Linked DNA regions of Homo sapiens: region 2 is linked to region 1. Evidence: fine-mapped expression QTL. A gene starts in region 1. The other region holds a variant in brackets. All regions are shown on one strand. Distances are from middle to middle.

Region 1 (4,388 bases):
GTAGAAATCCGTGATGCTCACTTCAAGCTATAATCTGTGTTTGCCACAGAGGTTTGTTCTAATTCCCCAACCTTGCCACGACTGACCTGGGTCATCACCATGTGCTTATTGAAGAGCCTTGGAATACTGTATAGACCCGTACAGAGTTGTTCAAATAGGTAAGCACTTTCCTTCTGGTGAATTTTTTTTTTTTTTTTTTTTTGAGATGGAGTTTCACTCTTGTTGCCCAGGCTGGAGTGCAATGGTGAGATCTTGGCTCACTGCAACCTCCGCCTCCCAGGTTCAAGCGATTCTCTTGCCTCAGCCTCCGGAGTAGCTGGGATTACAGGCACCTGCCTCCACGCCCGGCTAATTTTGTATTTTTAGTAGAGATGGGGTTTTCTCCATGTTGGTCAGGCTGGTCTTGAACTCCCAACCTCAGGTGATCTGCCTGCCTCGGCCTCACAAAGTGCTGGGATTACAGGTGTGAGCCAACGCGCCAGGCCGAAAATATTTTATAATAAAGTGACTGTTGTAGATCAACTTTATAATACAATGCGGATTCTCAATTCTTATAACAAAGACTAATGTACATAAATTTCAGTATGTTTTAAAATTAGCCAGTACTTAGTAGAAAGCCCATATAGTTTACTGTAGCACTTCTGCACTTATAGTTTAGGTCTATCTAGATGTATGACTTCTCAGATGCTGCCGAATATTGACCTTTTGCATGGTATTCAGTCTTTGAATTTTTATTTCATAATATGCTGGAACCACGATATTCTATCTGATCAGCAACTGGTCTGGTATCTGGGGCTCATAATTTTCTTTTTCCGCTTCATATTTCAGACAATTGAGGACGACTATAATAGTTTCTCATTAGAAATACATGCTAATAAACATCATGTCTTTGGTATTAAGTGGCAATTAGATGAAACAACCTGAAATTCTGTCTGATACCAAGATTGAACTTTGCTGAGATTACTGTTTCACTCACCGAAAATATCAGAATACTCAAGGGAGTTATTTTTTTTCTTAATGTAACTTTCATAAAGGAAATGAAAGAAATGTGGAGACTGAAAACAGTTGTCTGGTGTCTCAATACTGCATGCAGGTTCAACTACATTCTAAGCAAGTTGACTGTTATAATACATTTCACATTTTCTGTGATTTTGTTTGTGCTGAGACCTTATGCAATTACAAAGCAGATTTTTTACACTAACCTACACTGAGAAAAGAAAACCACCGTTCCCCTTTTAAACAGGAGAGTGCCTCAAGTACACTCGGGATCCCTCTCACCAAGCACAGCAAGGCTTGTGACTTCAAGCACACCAAGCTTGTGACTTTTTCTCCTACAAGGTGCACCTCGTTTTTTCTTACTGACAAATTGGCTTTAAAGTAAAGTTAGTTCCCTATCACACTGGCCCCCAAGACTCCAACTCCTGCTTCTCTTGGGATCTCTGCCCAGAGTCCAATCTCCCCTAAGGCGTGGTGCAGTGCTGTGCCCACACCTAGGCTCTGGGGGTGGGCACCCTTTGACTTTCCTCATATCATTCCACCCTCGACACATCCAAATGTGAACACATCTTCTCCACAAAGTGCCCCTTCACCACGCCAGTTCCCAGACACTTTATTTCTTCCCTTGCCTAGAGTGCTGCCCCCAAAACCAGCCCCCCATCATTGGCCATGTCCTTGCAGAGGCTGAACCATCCCACAATCTGTCAAGGATATCAGGGAAGAGCATGAGCTGGATAGACTTCAGGCTCTGCCAGCAGCTACATTCTAGGGGTGCCCGGACGTCCTGGTCTCTTGAGATGAGATGGTCTTGTGTCTGGAATTGGTCTCACTGACTAAAAGAATAAAGCCGCAGACCTTCACAGTGAGTGTGACAGTTTTTAAAGATGGTGTGTCTGGAGCTAGTTCCTTCAGATGTTTGGACGTGTTCAGTTTCTTTCTGCTGGTGGGTTTGTGGTCTCGCTTGCTTCAGGAGTGGCTGCAGACCTTTGTAGTGAGTGTCACGAGCTCTTAAGGTGGTGCGCCTGGAGTTTCTCATTCCTCCCAGTGGGTTTGCCATCTCACTGCCTTTAAGGAGGGAAGCTGCAAAGCTTCGCGCAGTACGACAGTTTCCAAACATGATGCAAGCACAGCTTACCACGGTTGCCTCCGCAGCCCGCTTTTATTCCCTTATCTGACCCCACCCACATCCTGCTGATTGGCCCATTTTACAGAGAGCTGATTGGTCCGTTTTGACAGGGTGCTGATTGGTGCATTTAGGAATCTTGAGCTAGACACAGAGTGCTGATTGGTGCATTTACAATCCTTTAGCTAGACACAAAAGTTCTCCAAGTCCCCACTAGATTAGACACAGAGCACTGATTGGTGCGTTTACAAACCTTTAGCTAGACACAGAGTGCTGATTGGTGTTATAATCCTGTAGCTAGACATAAAAGTTCTCCAAGTCCCCACCAGACTCAGGAGCCCAGCTGGCTTTGCCTAGTGGATCCTGCGCTGGGGCCGTGGGCAGAGTTGCCCGCCAGTCCCACACTGCACACCCACACCACGCACCAGCACTCCTCAGCCCTTAAGCATCGATAGGACTGTGTGCTGTGGAGCAGGGGGCGGCACCCCTTGGGCAGGCTCAGGCTGCTCAGAAACCCACGGCGGCTGGGGGGAGGCTCAGGCATGGTGGGCTGCAGGTCCCGAGCCCTGCCCCGTGGGGAGGCAGCTAAGGCCCAGTGAGAAATTGAGCGCAGCACCGGTGGGCCGGCACTGCTCGGGGAGCCAGAGCACCCTCCACAGCTGCTGGCCCGGGTGCTAAGCCCCTCACTGTCTGGGGCTGGTGGGGCCGGCCAGCCAGCTCTGAGTGTGGGGCCCACCAAGCCCACGCCCACCCGCCAAGCCCACGCCCACCCGGAACTCTAGCTAGATCACAAGTGCCATGCGCAGCCCCAGTTCCTGCCCCTGCCTCTCCCTCCACACCTCCCCGCAAGCTGAGGGAGCCGGCTCCTGCCTCGGCCAGCCCAGAGAAGGGCTCCCACGGTGCAGCGCTGGGCTGACGGGCTGCTCAAGCACAGCCAGAATGGGCGCCGAGGCCGAGGAGGCACCGAGAGCGAGTGAGGGCTGCCAGCACTCTGTCACCTCTCACTACCGCACTCTGTCCTACCCTCCCATGCCCCTCCAGCACCCTGATCCTACCTGCACCCCGCTCCTACTGAGAGGTGAAGCCCGGCTGGGCTTCTGGGTTGGGTGGGGACTTGGAGAACTTTTCCCTCTAGCCAAATGTTTGTAAATGCACCAATCAGCAGACTGTAAAAACGCACCAATCAGCACTCTGTGTCTAGCTAAAGGTTTGTAAGTGCACCAATCAGCACTCTGTAAAAATGCACCAATCAGTGCTCTGTGTCTAGCTAAAGGTTTGTAAATGCACCAATCAGCACTCTGTAAAAACGCACCAATCAGCTCTCTGTAAAATGGACCAATCAGCAGGACATGGGCAGGGCCAAATAAGGGAAAAGCTGGCCATGCGAGCCAGCAGTGGCAACCTGCTTGGGTACCCCTCGATGCTGCAGAGGCTTTGTTCTTTCACTCTTCACAGTGAATCTTGCTGCTGCTCACTTTTTGGGTCCGCACCACCTTGAAGAACTGTAACACTCACTGCGAAGGTCTGCGGCTTCTATTCTGAAGTCAGCCAGACCATGAACCCACCAGGAGGAACAAACAACTCTGGACGCCCCACCTTGATAGAGCTGTTAACACTCACTGCGAAGGTCTGCAGCTTTACTCCTGTGAAGTCAGCAAGATCACGAACCCACCAGAAGGAAAAGACTCTGGACACATCTGAACATCTGACGGAACAAACTCCAGACACACCATCTTTAAGAACAGTAACACTAACCGCGAGGGTCTGCGGCTTCATTCTTGAAGTCTGCGAGACCAAGAACCCACCAAAAAGAACCAATTCCGGACACACTACCTGCTTTCGACCTCACAGCACCTAGCTCCTACCTGGACCTTTCTCCTACCTGTGCTTGTCCCAGCAGCACCCGGCTGCTATCCGCCCTGCAGCACCCTATCCTACCCATGCTTGCCCCACTAGAACCCCAATCTTACCCACACTCTGCTCCTTTCAGTGCCCTGCCCTGCCAGCACCCCATCCTACACATGCCTGGCCCAGCAGTCACCCTACTCCACCTGAGCCCCGCCCCTACTCGCACCCCGCTCCTATCCATGGCTCACCACTGCAGCACCAGCCACTACCCAAACCTCGCTCCTACCCACGCCCAGCCCTGCCAGCACCCCATGCTACCCACGGCCCACTCCAACAGCACCTCAATATTACGCATACCCTGATCCTACCCACACCTCACTTCTACCCGTGCCCTGCCCCACCAGCACCCCACTCCTAGTGT
Region 2 (4,388 bases), 25 kb after region 1:
CTTTTTTTTTTTTCTTTTTCAAATGGGCTGATGGGTAAAAATAATGCAAGACTGGAGATGTTGGAAAAAAGCACACTGCATTTGCCTTTCAGCATCTGTGATGACTGAGTCCTTCCTCAGCGCTGCCACAGGGAGCACATTCACATGTGTGTCACACACATACCAGGGTTAGGTCAGAAGACCAAGTGTTACCTGGAGGAAGCCACAAAGGCTATGAGACCAAGCCTTCACCTGGAAGACACTTGATAGTTCAGAAGCCGAGATCCTGCGAGGTGTCTCAGAGAGCTCAGCTGTGACCCTGCACTGTATGGAAGGGCAGGCAGTGGGGCCCAGGCAGGTGAAGAGGATTGTCCACTGTTGAGCATCATCAGCCTAAAACCCACATGCAATGCTATTGCTGCAAAACCGCTGACTGTTGAAGCCACAAACCACAGAAACAGACTACCTTTATGGTCCTCACTGTGCAACTGGTGACTTTTCAGAAGATGAAGATTAAACATATTAATCATAAATTCAAAGCATCAGAAGAAATACTAGGAGGTTTTCTAACCTCTGCTACCATGACTTTTCTTTTTGGCAAGATTTGTGAATTATTGTAAATAAGCTCACAGAGGCCAAAGTGCTCCCCTGAGTCATCCAGAAAGAGGCAGGCTGCTAATCCCCACATCTGAGACATCTGTGTTTTCTTAGGATAATAAAAAATTAAAGATAAGGGAAAGAGAGAAGGACAGAAAGAGACAGAGAGACAGAGAGACAGAGAATTGGAGCTAAGAGGAAACATTTTCAGGTTTTGCCCCCCAGAATTCCCAGTGAACAGTCCCATTGCCAGCGGGTGAAATCCCATGCCCTGGCTCCAGGATCCTGCTCTTTCGTTTGGTGACTCCTGTGCAGATTTGGCACTGAAACAATATGGAACTTGTTACACTTCTCTGGACAAGTCATTTTGCTTTCGGCTCACAGGCTCCACTTCCCTGGACACCCCTTCACCCTAAGCTTCAAGTAATTCAGCTTCACCCTTCAGAGAAGAGCTCAGGTGTCACTTCCTCTAAGGACCTCCCCAGCTGCCTCTCCAGCAGAAGGGCCCCCACCTTGCCCTTTGCACATCTGTCCCTCAAGGTGCTGCTGTCCTCTGTGGAGGGTGGGATCCCGGGAACTAGAGCCCCTCTCCTGCTGGAGACACTCGGCACTCAGAAAGTGTGTGCTGAGCGGATACAAGTGTGGCAAGCTTGCACAGTCTTACAATGTGTAATCTCATGTCTGAAATAGATCCCCATTTTCATTCTTGGTAAAATGAGTAAGTGGGGCTGGGTGACCCATACTCTCTTTTCAACTCAGAAGTCCACATTGAGCCTGACATCAAATAGCTTCCCAGCCAGTGCCAGGCCAGGACCTAGTTTGTTCAATGTGCCTGTGTCCCCTACAGAGTTGGAAAAGCATGGAGAAATGGGACCAGCTCTGCTGCCTGCTGCCCAGTGCCAACCAGCAACTCCAGGCTCACAAACCCAAGGCAAAGGCACCTGCAGGAGATCTTGGTTATTCATTAGCTGTGATTGGGCTGGGAGGGGAGTGTGTTCACTTCTAATTTTCCAGGGACTAGCATGAGACAGTAAAGTTTGAAATGTGGAGTTTTTTTGTCTTGGCCAAAAAAAAAAAAAAAAAAAAAAAAGACCTTTTTACCTTCTCATCCTTGGAGCCACTGGCATTAGCTATGGGCCTGATAGTTTAAGAAAACTTGAAAGTGAACTATGTGAACCAGTATTCTCCAAAGTAATATTTTGATAAATAGTGTAATTCTTTATTACAGCAAAGCCATTGCTTAAGTGGGCAAAACTCTAGAGGATAGGAAAACACACTCTTGAAAAAAGGTGGTGATGCCCTGAAATTCAGCAAACTGCAGGGACACGTGTTGTTCTACCCCAGGTCAGAATGTGTCAGTCATCACTCGATGCCACTCACAGACCACCAACTTCAGAATATCTAGGTGTAAATTTCTGTACAAAAGTCTTAACATAACAATGTAAATAATTTCACATTATGATTAATAAATTAGTATTTGTATTACACTATTACATAATATAAAAGCTATTAAAACATATTTGTCCTCAAAGAATGGCCTTGGTTTCTTTGGGCAGTGTCTCCTCATGGAAAGGTAGTGCATTCCTGCTAAGTCATGGACAAAACTGGCCTCCAGGAGCTGCAAGCTGCAGCAGCAGCTTCTCATCTACGTCCGTCACTACATGATACTGTTGTTGACTTTGAAAGCTTCTTTCAGTCTAGTTTTATCAACAGAGCTAGTATTTCATGAGGATCTACTACATACCAGGTTCCAGAAAGCTAAATGCCTTTTGCTTGTTATTACTCACTAAATACAAACCACAACTCTCTTCTCATTACTCACACAACAAAATTTAGCTGAGGGAGATTGAGTGACTTTCCCAGGGTC[G/A]CACAGTTACTAAGAGCAGAGCCGTGTTTAGATTCATGTGGGAATACTGAACGCTGAAATGAACGAGCAGAAATATCCTACGTTCCAAAAGCCTACTCAAGCCATTTGTTCTTAAGGAAAATCTTTATGCTAATTTTAAGCTCCAAATACTTATGAATGGCAGAGATCTACAGATTTCATTCTGATGTAAGAGATGATGCTCACCAGCTGGTTACTGCTACCACCCCACAACCCCGAGCATACTGGACAAATCTCTAAGCCTCGTTGTTAGTGCAGACAATGCTGGTGGAGTCTGAAGTTGTCATGCAGTGACTCACTCAAGCTTAGGCAGATTTGATGATATATGACACAGAGATGCAAAGAAATGCTGTAGCTGACACACAGAGGCTGGCTCTGGGAGATGCAGAAGGAGCATGTCACCCAAAATAAAGCCAGACAGACATCCTTAAGGAAGGAGCAAAGGGGCTGCATCTTAAAGAATGAAGAAGAGATTTGTCATGAGAGATGGGACAGGAAGTTCTTGAGAGGCAGAGGGAGAGCATGAGAATGTCGGGAAGGGAGGAGAGATTCTTGCACATCTGGGAAGCTGACAATCCATCGGCATTGTCAGAAGGAAAATAAGGAGGAGGAGTGGAAATAATAAAAGCAGGGCTGTGTGTTGATTGTGGTAAAGAGTTGTGATTCTATCCAGAAGGCAATAGGTAGCATTCTAAAGAGAGATCTTCTAAAACAAGAGTCAGCAAATATTTTCTGCAAAGGGCTAAATGTTAAATATTTCAAGTTTTCCAAGCCATGTTGTCCCTCTCTCAATGACTCAGCTCTTCCATTATACCATGAAAGTAGCCAGAGACATTGTATAACACATGTATGTGGCTGTGTCCCATTACAACTTTACTTACAAACGCAGACTGTGTCAGACCTGGCCCATGCATGGTAGTTTGCCACACCCTGTTTTAGAAAGCTCAGGTTTATGATGTGATGGAGAATGCCTACAAGAGCTCTTGTTTTAAATGGTAGAGTGAACATACACTGGAATTCTATCCTGCTTGACCCAAGCTCTTGATAGCGAAAGGTAGAAAAGATAGATGGTAAATAGATAGATAGATGATAGATAAAGAAAATACATAGCTGTTCCAGAAAACAGAAATGGATAACTTCATGAACCAAAAGCAGAGTAATATACTTTAGAAAGGGAGCAGGCTGGAAAACTCACAGTTGCAAAGCAAATAGAATTTCCAACTGCCTCTTGTAGCCCCTTCCTGGAAGTAGTCACAACCCAGGGTGTTTCGACTTCTTCCCCTGTTTTTTGTTTGTTTGCTGTTTGCTTTTTTGTGGGTTTTTGTTGTTGTTGTTTGCTTTTTTAAAAAAAATTCCCTTTCCCTGCTTTTTTGTCACAGCAGTCTTTGTCACTTCAAACACCACAAGTTTTCTTTTTCAAAAAATTATATCAACCTTTCAATTAAAATGCAACATGTCTGAAACTTGATATCTAGAGAGGTGATATGGACAAAGGAGCCCTTGTTACTGCACGTTTCTGTTCTCCAGACTTCACCTTGCACACAAGAACAGACAATGCACAAAACCACTTCCTTATGGACTGAAATTCTGAAATCCTTTTATGACTGGCGTTTCCTAACCCTTCAACTTCCCCTCTCCCATGCTGTGAATGATTGTATTGGACATTTTTGTTTTAATCTCAGTGACAGGGGAACACAGGTAGCTCTAATATAGCTGTGACCCAGATGCTTCTGTTTCTACCATGTATTTATTTTGTAGCAAACATTTACATCCATCGTTTTTCACTGTCTTTTGAAAATAATTAGGGAATATCTCATCTGAGGTAGGATGTTTCTAGTGGTTGTGTTCTGAAGGAGGAAAAACTAATCTGTTCTCTTTCCACTGCATTCCAGGAACAGTGAGAGGACCTTGTGCATGAATAATTTGT

What was found. PIP is the estimated chance that this variant, and not a neighbour inherited with it, causes the effect.
Region 2: its variant is the best candidate, but not a certain one, in a credible set for the expression of LIRIL2R in nucleus accumbens (GTEx, PIP 0.86).

Annotation. Positions count from the first base shown.
Region 1 is chr6:178,136-182,523 of GRCh38, reverse strand. LIRIL2R (lincRNA regulator of IL2RA) reads right to left here and starts at 2,129. Exons shown (of 2, transcript XR_926349.3): 1 at 1-2,129. LINC03066 (long intergenic non-protein coding RNA 3066) reads left to right here. Exons shown (of 8, transcript NR_126020.1): 7 at 50-158; 8 at 829-1,058.
Region 2 is chr6:152,857-157,244 of GRCh38, reverse strand. No RefSeq gene overlaps it. Among named protein-coding and RNA genes, the nearest start is that of LIRIL2R, 25 kb to the left of the region's middle. RefSeq lists enhancers at 883-972, 1,013-1,102. The variant G/A (reference allele first, on the strand shown) is at 2,444.